2 linked regions of the Homo sapiens genome follow. Each later gene encodes a partner of the first gene's protein in a complex. Each region holds a gene or a part of one and is shown in the gene's direction. Other genes may lie near its edges.

Region 1 (6,348 bases):
TCTACAAGGATTTAAATATAATCCTACAGAAGAGGTATCAATTATACAGGGGAAAATGTACCTTTACAATGGTCACCACAATAACCAAGTGATTCAATTTAGCATCACCCAAGGTGGAACACCCTAACATTATGCCCCTCCTGATGTGACTTAAGAATTTTACCTATTTAGTTTTCTTGCACAAAGTGTTAAACTGGAATTTAATCATGAGGAAATTATTAGACAAATCCTGAATGTAGTCATTCTATAAGATGATTGACTTGGGCTTCTCAAAAAGTCAGTGTCATGAAAAAAAAAAAAAGGGGAGAGACTTGTAAGATACAATGACCAAATGCAATGTTTGAATCTTTATTGTATTCTGGATATTTAAAAAGACAAAAGCTGGACGCAGTAGCTAATGCCTGTTATCCCAGCATTTTTGGGAGGTCAAAAGGGGAGGATGGCTTGAGCATAGGATTTTGAGACTAGCCTGGGCAACACAGTGAGTTCTCATCTCTACAAAAAATCAGAAAATTAGCTGGGCATGGTAGTGTGCATCTGTGGTCCCAGCTACTTGGGGGGGTGAGGTGGGAGGATCACTTGAGCCTAGGAGGTCAAGGCCGCAGTGAGCCATGATCATGTTACTGCATTCCAGCCTGGGTGACAGAGTGAGATCATATCTAAATAATAATAATAATAAAAGAAAGCAACAACCCAGCAAACAGCTATAAAGATATCTTCGGGACAATTGAGAACATTTGAATATAGACTGCATATTAGATAACAATGCCAAATAACTGTTTTCTCAGGTGTGATAATAGTATATGTAGAAAATGTCTTTTTGTTTTGTTTTATTTTGTTTTTGTTTGTTTGTTTGTTTTGAGACAGAGTCTCACTGTGTCGCCCAGGCTGGAGTGCAGTGGCACGATCTCGGCTCACTGCAACCTCTGCCTCCCAGGTTCAAGTGATTCTCCTGCCTCTGCTTCCTGAGTAGCTGGGATTACAGGTATCTGCCACCACTCCAGGTTAATTTTTTCTATTTTTAGTAGAGACGGAATTTCACCATGTTGACCCAGCTGGTTTTGAACTCCTGACCTCAGGTGATTCACTTGCCTTGGCCTCCCAAAGTGTTGAGATTACAGGCATGAGTCACTGCACCCAGCCAAAAATGTTTTTTTAGGCAATGCATGCACAAACATTTAGAGGCCAAGTGTGTCATGATGTCTGCAACTTTCAATGTTCAGCAAAAATCAACATGGAGAGAGAAAGAGGGCACACATGTGGCAAAATATTAGCCATTGTACAATTGGTAAATCTAGATGACAGTACACAGGTGTTTGTTGTATTATTCTTTGAACTTTTCTGTAGATTTGGAAATGTTCTGCGTAGAGAGAAATCTTTTTTTAAAAAAACAATATCTGGTTTTGATTAATGAGGCTATATTCAAAAGAAACACTAAATGATGTGGCCAGTTAGTGAGAATGTAGCCTTATCTTTACTGACCTCATTTTAATATTCCTACTCTGGCTGGGCATGGTGGCTCACGCCTATAATCCCAGCACTCTGGGAGGCCGAGACGGGTGGATCACCTGAGGTCAGGGGTTCGAGACCAGCCTGGCCAACATGGTGAAACCCCATCTCTACTAAAAATACAAAAATTAGCTGGGTGTGGTGGTAGGCGCCTGTAATCCCAGCTACTCGGGAGTCCGTGGCAGGAGAATCGCTTGAACCCAGGAGGTGGAGGTTGCAGTGAGCTGAGATCACGCCATTGCACTCCAGCCTGGGTGACAAGAGCAAAACTCAGTCTCAAAAAAAAAAAAGAAAAAAAAAGATATATATATTCCTACTCTTATTAAATGAATATAGCATTTCTTAGCAACTTCTTTTGATTTGTGAGTATATATTTTCTTGGCCTCAAAATTAAAGTAAAAAGTATCCTCTTACTCAGAGGAGGACAGGGGCAAGAGCCTGGGACCTTATTTGCTAATTAAAATGCACACACACACACACACACACAGAAATTTTGAGAGCCATTTTAATATAATTGCCTCCCTAGAAACATACCTTTTAGGGAATTTTTATCACTAAACCACATGTTATTTAAATACGTACATGTTTAACATAAATACATACATAAAATTCACATGCATACTTAACACTTATGTTAAATATATTCAATGTATATACATATGTACACAATATATGCATATATACATGTGGGTATGTGGTATGTGTGCATGTGTGTGTATGGCCAGCTACATAATTTGTGGGACTAAGGGCAAAATGAAACTGTACGGCCCTCGTTCAAAAATTAGGTGTGGGGTGCTTCTAAGCACAGTCTTGTGCAACTGCACAGGTTGCATGTCCATGAAGCCATCCTGTGTGTGTGCACATATGTGTATGAATATGTATTTTATATAATACATATATATGCATGTATGTATCTGAGAAGAAATGTTTAAAAGGCTACATACAAGCTTTTCCAGGTCTCTACTATCTGTTAACTAACTAGAGACATAACTCACAATATGCAGTCCCCACTGAGTGTTCACCATAATTTGAGATTCTTGGCATGTTAACTTTTCATTATGGAATATTGAATAATTTCAATATTATTCATACATTTCTTTATGTTCAAACATACACAAAAATAGAATAATGAAACTCTACCCATCACCCAGCTGCAACAAATATCAATACTTTACCGTTCTTAATACATCTAACCCCTTACTTTTTGTTTGTTTCTTTTGGTGAAGTATTTAATTGTAATTTTTTTTTTAAGAGACAGGATCTCACTCTGTCACCCAGGCCAGAGTACAGTGGTACGATCACAGCTCCTTGTAACCTCGAACTCCTAGGCTCAAGTGATCCTCCTGCCTCAGCCGCTTGAATAGCTGGGACTACATGCATACACCAACACACCCAACTAATTTTTAAATTTTTTGTAGAAATATGGTCTTGCTGTGTTTCCCAGGCTGGTCTCAAACTCCTGGCCTTGAGAGATTCTCCTGCCTTGGTCTTCCAAACTGCTGGGATTACAATATCCGGCCCTACTGGAATATTTTAAAGTAAATCTCAGGTGTTACATCATTGCACTTGTAAGTACTTTAAAATGTATCTCTAGCAGATAAATCTTTTTAACAAAACCACAGCATCATTGTCACACTCAAAAAATTGACAAGATTTCCTTAATTATCATATAATAGTCTGTATTGTTTCTATCTCAAAAATACAGTTTTCTTGGTTGTTGAAATCTAGATCCAACATTGCATTTGGTTGATGTGTCTCCTTTACTCTGTAAAATTTACCCCTGCGTTTTAGTTCTTTTCGGCTTTTATTTGTCCTGTGGAATTTCCTCCACTCAGGATTTGACTGAGAGTATCCCCAGAGTGTCCAGTTAGACCTAGAAGCTGGATTTGATCCTGGTTCATTTATTTTCCCCCAAGAATACTCCATAGGTGATGCTATACACTTTCTCTTACATCATTTCAGGAGGAACATGATGTCTGATTGTTCCACTTTCAGTGATTTTAATATTGATCAATGAGTTCTGGTGGTACCAACTACTACAAAGTTTCTCATCAATCTTTCACCTGATGGTTTTAGCAGCTATTGATAATTGTTGCCTGGATCCATTATTTCATTTCAGGGGTTGTAAAATAGTGATTTTCTGGTTCTATCAAACCTCTTGCATTTATCATCTATGATTCTTCTTTAAGGAACTTTCTCTAAATCTGAATGGGAAAGATGCGATAAATATTTATCAAATTTTAGAGTGAGTTAGTGCCCTAGCAACCTCCACAGTTGACAAATGAGTATTTCTTTAAAGCAAGGTATGGCCCAACCAATACTTTGAAACTAGCATGTTTAGAATAGAGCAGGAGGAAACTATATTTGAAAGGTCAGAAGTGGAAAGACTAAGAGGGCCTGAACAATAAGAGGACAGAACCAAGAGGAGTTGGCAACTAATTGGATGTGGGGATTAAGGAAAGGTAAGCATCAAAGATTACCTCCAAGTTTGTTAGAAGGTTAGTAGCAGGATTCTGATGCCATTCAAGTAAATACAAGTCTCAGTCAGATGAACCCCAAGAGCCACATGTATTTGAGGGGTACTTTGTCTCACACTTTTACCTGTTACATGGTTTTCAGTAATTTAGAATTTAAGCCAGTAGTGGGGCGACTGTACATCTATCGACATGGTGAGGTAGAGCATGTTTGGGAGGAAAGACGTTGAATCCCATTTGGTGACAGTGAGCTTGAGGTGCTGCCAGAACACTGCACTGAAGATAGGAGGAGACTGTAGGAAATACAAGATAGGAAAGGTCTCCACTGAAATGTTAACTCTTTCTCTCTAAACGGCCATCCAGGCCTCAATGTCTGCAGTTTCTGATCTGTGATTATGACTTATCCAAATCTTACATTTCTTAAAAATAGTCATAGATGAAGGGAATCACAGTTGATAGTTATATGGTGACATTATTGGCTTAAATTCTAAATAACTAGAAACTGTATAATAGGCAAAACTGTGAGGCAAATAAAATGCTTCTCAAATCTGTGTGGCTCTTATGGGGTTAATTTGATTTGGACCTGTATTAATTTCTTATGGCTGCTATAACTAACAAATTACCACAAACTTGGTGGTTTAAAACAACACACATTTATTCTCTTTCTGTTCTGGAGGCCAGAAGTCTAAAATGAGATTCACTGGGCTGCAGTTCACTGGGCAAGGCCATGCTCCTCTGGAGGCTTCCATGATGCATCCCATATTCAGTGTTTCCCGAGTAAGCCCCACCCATGCAGGTCTGCAGTTTTACCTCAACAGGCTTTTGCACTCAGTGGCTCTCTCCTGTGGTTTCTATCTGAAATTCTCTTCATTTTTTTTTTAATAACTGCTTTATTGAGATATAATTCACATGCCATACAATTCACCTATACAGTATACAATTCAGTAGTGTTTACTATATTCAGAGTTGTGCAACTATCATTTTTCTCACCCCCAAAAGAAACCCTATGCCCGTTAGTATTCACTCTGTTTTCTCACAACTCTAGGTAACCACTAATCTACTCTCCATCTCTATAGATTTGCCCATGCTAGACATTTCATATAAATGGAATCATACATGTGGTCTTTTTCACTGAGTATATTTTCAAGGTGCATCCCAGCTGTGGCATGAATCAGCATCTCATTCCTTTTTATTGCCAAATAATATTCTATCATATGGATATGTCGCATTTTATGTATCCATTCATCAGCTGATGGACATTTGGGTTGTTTGTACTTTTTGGCTACCATGAATAATGCTACTATGAACTTTTGTGTACAAATCTTATGTGGACTTGTTTTCATTTCTCTTGGATGTATATTCCTAGGAGAATGGCTGGATTATACAGTAACTCTTTCCTCATAACTTTGCATATCAAAATTATATCCATCTTTCAGAACCCAAATTCAGTGTTATTTCCAAAGTGTTCCAACATCTCCCACTCAAAATGAATCTTCTCCCTAGTACTCCCATTGTTTAGTACCTAATTGTTCTTACCAGTTTGTCTTAGAGCTCAGTCATTCCTACACAGCACTTTTCTTCATTATACTGCTAATTTCATTACACTGTAAGAGTGGGGACAAGCTGTTCTTCTTGTATACCAGAAAGTAGTGAGTGCACTGCTGTGAAGAAAGCAGGAACTCAAAAGTTAAGAATTTTGAATGAGCCTATAAAATGTGTCTAATAAATAATAATGTTCATTTTCAAATCTCAACAATTAAATGTTTAACAAATAACACTTGAAATAAATGTTTATTAGAAAAACCAATTTGGTATGTTAAAGTATTTATTTTGAATTTCAGAAACTACAGAATTCTGGATTTTTAATTAAGAAAATTAGACATTTTAGAATTTCTAGATAGGACTTTGAAAATAAACATGGCACAATATACACAAAAGTAAATGACAACATGACATTAAATTTTACATTGTTTTGCAGTTTCAAATTTCGTATTAATGTTCTACAACAAATTTTAAAATTCTTTTCAGTGTTTTGCTTCCCTTGGTGTTCATTATTGCCTATTTATAAAGTCATAAAAGGCCTAAAAATAACTTGTTACTCATATTGAAAGTCTGATTTTTTTTTTATTCCCTTAAGATGGAGGTCTCTCACTATGTTGCCCAGGCTGGTTTCAAACTTCTGGGCTCAAAGGATTCCCCATCTCAGCCCCCTGAGTAGCTGGGACCAAAGGCATGCACCACTGCACCCGGCTGAAAGCCTGTATTTTTATCTTTCGATGGACAACAGAGGGATATCTCCCACTCTCTAAGCCGGTCTAGTTCTAGTACTAGGCCTGTAAATGTAGACCACAATCCTGGTGAAGTC
Region 2 (6,409 bases), on another chromosome or scaffold:
TAAAATAATTTAATATCCCTTCCCAAAGGTAACCAGTAAAGTAAGCTCTTGGCTAGGTAACTGGACTCTTGTTCACAACTAGCCAGTGGGAAAAGGTGCTAGAGCTTCCTCTGGCCACCTGTTTAATTTGATCATTCCAAGACAGAAACATTTCTTAGGAAGTTCTTTCTAGAATCTACCTGGTGTCCCTCCCACTGCTATCAGAGCCCTGTCCTCTGTCCTCAGTGGAGGTAGAGAGCAAATGGTTGCTGCTTTCTTCATCACAACCCTTCAAAGCCTATTATTACCAGCTAAGAAGGATTGGTTGACTATGGGGCCAGAGCCCCTGAGCCTGCTGGTAGAATGGATGCTGTACAGGAGGGTGGGGAGGTAGCAGGCAGAATGAGGAAAGCCCCTTTGAGCTGCAACCCCAGCTCCTGTCCTGCTGACTCAGACAGCTGACTGTGGAGCTCCATGCCCTGCCAGGGCCTGCTGCCTCCTGCCCGTCTGAGCTCCTGAACTTGGGAAATGGAGGCCCAGAGGCAAAGGGAGGTACCTGAGACAGGAACTGAGTCAGGATCAACAGGCCAGAGCGGGCAGGAGGTATCAGGCAGCCTGGCTCCCAGATGCACCCCTGAGCTCCAGCAGGGGAGGAGTAGGAATGAAGGGGCTTCCTTGCCCTTGCTCATGGCTATGCGGAGGGCGTGAACCACCACCAGGTCCTCTGGCTTAAGTGGCGGGAAGCAAATGGTCCCTCCCTGGACTCAGGCTCCAAAGTTCCTGGGCCTGCCTTCCAGGTTCCCAGTGTCCTGGGATCTCCAGCTTTCCCCAGGACTTGGGGAAGCCCCGGCTGGATGACTAGTACAAATGAAGGCCCCTGAGGTTCCAGGACCTGCTGAGGTCACAGGAATATCCTAGATCAAGCTTGTCCAACCCACGGCCCACAGGCTGCATGTGGCCCAGAATGGCTTTGAATGCAGCCCAACACAAATTAGTAAACTTTCTTAAAACATTATGAGATTTTTTTGCAAATTTTTTTTTTTTTTTAGCTCATCAGTTATTGGTAGTGTTGGTATATTTTATGTGTGGCCCAAGACAATTCTTCCAATGTGGCCCAGGGAAGCCAAAAGATTGGACACGCCTGTCCTAGATGGAGAGGAAGGAGGCAGTGCTGAGCACATCTGGCCATTCATCCATCTGGAGAGAGAAGGCTATGGGCAAACTGCTTCCTCTCCCCTGTAGACACCCAGCTGGGAAGGTCTGGCCTTTGGCTAAGTCCTGGCTTGGGGTCCTTCCTCATTTCACAGAACCTAACTCTATGTTAGTGCTTTGTGAGTATATGTTGATCATAATAAAGTTGACGGGATTTTTTCACATGATAATAATAGTTGTCATCTGGCCGGGCATGGTGGCTTATGCCTATAATTTCAGCACTTTGGAAGGCTGAGGCAGGTGGATCACTTGAGGTCAGCTGTTCGAGACCAGCCTGGCCAACATGGTGAAACCACATCTCTACTTAAAAAAAAAAAAAATACAAAAATTAGCTGGGTGTGGTGGTGCACCCTTGTAATCCCAGCTACTCGGGAGGCTGAGGCAGGAGAATCACTTGAACCCAGGAGGTGGAGGTTGCAGTGAGCTGAGATTGTGCCACTACACTCCAGCCTGGGTGACAAGAGCGAAACTCCGTCTCAAAAAAAAGAAAATAATAATAATAATAGTTGCCATCCATTCTACTGTGCTTTCCATTAACTCGTGTAATCCTCACAAGTCCCATTTTATAGTTACAGGAACTGAGGCTCACAGAGCTTAAATCACTTGGCCAAGGCCACAAACAGCTATAAGAATTACATTTAGGCAGTCTGATTCCAAAGATACTAGTCTATTCTGTATCTCATAGACAAACAATACATATTCACTTTTTTGTTGTTGTTTTGTTTTGAGACGGAGTCTTGCTCTGTCACCCAGGCTGGAGTGCAGTGGCGCCATCTCGGCTCACTGCAAGCTCCGCCTCCCGGGTTCAAGCGATTCTCCTGCCTCAGCCTCCCGAGTAGCTGGGACTACAGGCATGTGCCACCATGCCCGGCTAATTTTTTGTATTTTTAGTAGAGACAGGGTTTTCCTGGGTTAGCCAGAATGGTCTCGATCTCCTGACCTTGTGATCCACCCACCTCAGCCTCCCAAAGTGCTGAGATGACAGGCGTGAGCCACCGCGTCCGACCTATATTCACTATTTATAAATTGGAGAGAATAAGAAAATCAAAAGGGCCAGGTGTAGTGACTCACACCTGTAATCCCAGCACTTTGGGAAGCCAAGGCAGGAGGATTGCTTGAACCCAGAAGTTCGAGACCAGCCTGGGCAACATGGTGAGACCCTGTCTCTACAAAAAAATACAAAAATTAGCTGGGCGTTGTGGTGAGCACCTTATTCTTAGGAAGCTGAGGCAGGAGGATCACCTGAGGCCAAGGAGGTTGAGACTGCAGTGAGCTGTGATCATACCACTGTACTTCAGCCTGGACATCAGAGTAAGACCCTATCTCTAAAAAGGAAATTGAGAAGAAAGAAAATCAAAGGGAAGCAAAATCACTCACTCTCACTACCTCAAGATACCCTCTAGAAGTTGGTATTTTAGTGTGGTTCCTATTGTTTTCTGTGTCAGTTCTCTGATTTGAGCAAAATCTTTGGGACGTCAAACTTAAAATCCCCTTTACTTCCTTGGAAACCCTGTAGCATTAGCCCAGACATGTCCCTACTCCTCCTTGTGGCAAAGAGAAGGATCTCGTCTTTGGTCCCCAGAGTTCTGGCCTAAGCCTCCCTCCAGGAGGGAAGATGAGTGTTCAGACACTCAGAGTAGCTGGGGGAGACACAGGCCTGTGAAATTATCCTGGCTCAACTATTAGGTCGGCAGAATCCCAGTGAAGGGAGCCCTACCTCTGAGCCCCATCTAAGCTTTGGCTATGGGTGGGGCAGATAAGCAGGAATCCATCCCTATAGGCTCAATGCCAACACCCTTAGGTGAAACTCTTGATGAAACTTGAGGCCAGGGCTCCGGCAAGCAGGGAAAGAACGTTGGCAACAGAGGTCTCCATCTCTGAGGACTCTGCCAGGGGTCAGAGATGGGGCAATGGTCAAAAGGAAGGAACAGGCCAGGCACAGTGGCTCATGCCCATAATCCCAGCACTTTGGGAGGCTGAGGCAGGAGGATCGCTTGAGCCCAGGAGTTTGAGACCTGCCTGGGCAATGTAGTGAGATCTGCTCTCTATTTAAAAAAAAAAAAAAGGAAAGAACAAGTAAACTTCTGAGAAACAGGCTGGGGGAGGCATCACGTAGCTGGAATTGCTGCCCCATAAAACAGAATGGTATGTGTCACTGCCACCTCCCTTTCTCAGTCCTCTCTCTCCCCAGGTTGCTAGCGTCCCCCCTGGGGGATCAAACTGGACTGCTTCCCAGCCTCAGACAGAGAGCAGTCTGAGTCAGGCAGGAAAGTGGGACAGCCGGGGAGCTGGACCCCACCCTCTGTGAGCCCCGCTGGTACCTGATGGCATGTGGCTTGGAGAGGGCAGGTGACCTGGCGTGGAGGGCCAGAGGGTAAATCCTCAAACAAGTGGCAACAGGCCACCAACTTGAAAGGGAAAATTGTGTAGTGATGGGAAATGTGTCCAACAAACCTACTGGGTGACTAATTACAAAGGCTGGGCTGGAGCTTCAGAGGCTGCTTGTTAAACACTTCATTAAGCGGCACTCTGAAAGCTGCCACCTGCGCATTCTGGGAGCTCAGAGGGGACCCTGAGGGGGAATGAGGCCTGGAGGATGGAACCATCTTCAGGTAGACTGAGAAGGAGCCTGGATCTCACTTCCAAACACAGTCTGGAGCTCATAGGTCAGAGGCCTCAATGGGAGAAAAGCTAAAGGAAGAGGGTGCAGAAAGGAGTTTCAGGGAATTGGTGGCTATGTGACTTTGAGCAAATCTCACCCCTCTCTGAGACTTAGTGTTCCCATCTCTATGGTCCTGTGTGTGTCACAGAGACATGGTGGGGATTAAATTCGATCGTGAATATGAAAGTGCTTGGGAAACTCCATGGCCCTACCTAAACATGAGTTATCCTCACCTGAACCAAGGGGGGAAGTTACCTGGCAGGATTAGGAACCCCATCCTCCTGAACCTTTATGGGCTCTGTCGAGGCTGAAGCAGCCAGGGGCTAAAGCCGTCCTTAGCCCCTGGAAGGGCACTGTGAAAGTGGATCTGATTTGAGAAGCCGTTTCCTGATGTGGGCAGCCATGTGATGCCAGCCCCGAACAAGAGGGGGCAGCCTGGAGCCTGGAAAGGTGCCAGTGCAGGTGGGGCCCACGCCCAGATTTCTCCTGCTGACTGTTCTGATGATTCACCCCCACATCCCAGCCTTTTTACCTTTACTGCAGAGCCGGAAAGGGTGTGGGGAAGAGAGGAGAGGGAGGCAGGTCTTGGGCCCTGGTCCCGCCCCCTGCTCCTCCCCACCCTTCTCTGGGCCTGGCCACCCAGCCAAAAGGCAGGCCAAGAGCAGGAGAGACACAGAGTCCGGCATTGGTCCCAGGCAGCAGTTAGCCCGCCGCCCGCCTGTGTGTCCCCAGAGCCATGGAGAGAGCCAGTCTGATCCAGAAGGCCAAGCTGGCAGAGCAGGCCGAACGCTATGAGGACATGGCAGCCTTCATGAAAGGCGCCGTGGAGAAGGGCGAGGAGCTCTCCTGCGAAGAGCGAAACCTGCTCTCAGTAGCCTATAAGAACGTGGTGGGCGGCCAGAGGGCTGCCTGGAGGGTGCTGTCCAGTATTGAGCAGAAAAGCAACGAGGAGGGCTCGGAGGAGAAGGGGCCCGAGGTGCGTGAGTACCGGGAGAAGGTGGAGACTGAGCTCCAGGGCGTGTGCGACACCGTGCTGGGCCTGCTGGACAGCCACCTCATCAAGGAGGCCGGGGACGCCGAGAGCCGGGTCTTCTACCTGAAGATGAAGGGTGACTACTACCGCTACCTGGCCGAGGTGGCCACCGGTGACGACAAGAAGCGCATCATTGACTCAGCCCGGTCAGCCTACCAGGAGGCCATGGACATCAGCAAGAAGGAGATGCCGCCCACCAACCCCATCCGCCTGGGCCTGGCCCTGAACTTTTCCGTCTTCCACTACGAGATCGCCAACAGCCCCGAGGAGGCCATCTCTCTGGCCAAGACCACTTTCGACGAGGCCATGGCTGATCTGCACACCCTCAGCGAGGACTCCTACAAAGACAGCACCCTCATCATGCAGCTGCTGCGAGACAACCTGACACTGTGGACGGCCGACAACGCCGGGGAAGAGGGGGGCGAGGCTCCCCAGGAGCCCCAGAGCTGAGTGTTGCCCGCCACCGCCCCGCCCTGCCCCCTCCAGTCCCCCACCCTGCCGAGAGGACTAGTATGGGGTGGGAGGCCCCACCCTTCTCCCCTAGGCGCTGTTCTTGCTCCAAAGGGCTCCGTGGAGAGGGACTGGCAGAGCTGAGGCCACCTGGGGCTGGGGATCCCACTCTTCTTGCAGCTGTTGAGCGCACCTAACCACTGGTCATGCCCCCACCCCTGCTCTCCGCACCCGCTTCCTCCCGACCCCAGGACCAGGCTACTTCTCCCCTCCTCTTGCCTCCCTCCTGCCCCTGCTGCCTCTGATCGTAGGAATTGAGGAGTGTCCCGCCTTGTGGCTGAGAACTGGACAGTGGCAGGGGCTGGAGATGGGTGTGTGTGTGTGTGTGTGTGTGTGTGTGTGTGTGCGCGCGCGCCAGTGCAAGACCGAGATTGAGGGAAAGCATGTCTGCTGGGTGTGACCATGTTTCCTCTCAATAAAGTTCCCCTGTGACACTCCTCCTGTCTCTCTTCCAGTTCTTGGCGATGGGCTGGGAGTGGGACTGGAATCTGACTTAGAGACCCTGACTTTGGACCTCTGAGTTAGGGCCCTGAACTCCCTAGGTGGCTCAGTGGCCCGCACGCAAGACTTTGAGTCCAGGTGAGGCCGGGGTCCGGCTCTCTCCATCACGGCGGCCCCAGTCAAACTGGACGGGACCGGGAGGGTCGGGTGAACCCACAGGAGGCGCCGTGGCTCCTCTGCCGGGCTGAGGGGAGGTGAGTGGGAGCCACGGCGCGGGAGGCTGACGAGCTCTGGTGGAGCGGGGCAGGAAATAGTGAAGTCTCCGGCGTGAGATCTAAGGACAGCGCCGCAGTAGTGAGCGGCACTGAGCACCCGATTTGCAGGCGGGTCACAGTTTCATCAAGGGCTCAGATCTCAGCGGAGGGGAGTACGATCTGAGGAAGGGGTATAGCGCCGCCAAAAAAGCCTAGATCTTAGGAGAGGGTCACGTCCCACAGAGTTCGGAGATGGAGACAAAAGGAAACGGGCTGAAGGGGAGGAAGGACGAGCTGGGTGGGAAGGGCCGCTGGGAG

Evidence for each region.
Region 2: the proteins of EIF2AK2 (region 1) and SFN are in contact, whole or in part, in a crystal structure (PDB 7OBK), measured with the Homo sapiens proteins. Residues at the interface, in NP_001129123.1 of Homo sapiens: Asn546, Glu547, Arg548, His549, Thr550, Cys551; in NP_006133.1 of Homo sapiens: Lys49 (codon at 4,734), Arg56 (codon at 4,755), Lys122 (codon at 4,953), Asp126 (codon at 4,965), Arg129 (codon at 4,974), Tyr130 (codon at 4,977), Glu133 (codon at 4,986), Gly171 (codon at 5,100), Leu174 (codon at 5,109), Asn175 (codon at 5,112), Val178 (codon at 5,121), Glu182 (codon at 5,133), Leu222 (codon at 5,253), Asp225 (codon at 5,262), Asn226 (codon at 5,265), Leu229 (codon at 5,274), Trp230 (codon at 5,277).

The regions. Positions count from the first base shown.
Region 1 is NC_000002.12:37,098,652-37,104,999, reverse strand, and holds the end of EIF2AK2 (interferon-induced, double-stranded RNA-activated protein kinase), read left to right. Parts: 3' UTR 1-5,790; downstream 5,791-6,348.
Region 2 is NC_000001.11:26,858,624-26,865,032, forward strand, and holds SFN (14-3-3 protein sigma), read left to right. Parts: upstream 1-4,525; 5' UTR 4,526-4,589; coding exon 4,590-5,336; 3' UTR 5,337-5,833; downstream 5,834-6,409. UniProt on the Homo sapiens protein: Adapter protein implicated in the regulation of a large spectrum of both general and specialized signaling pathways. Binds to a large number of partners, usually by recognition of a phosphoserine or phosphothreonine motif.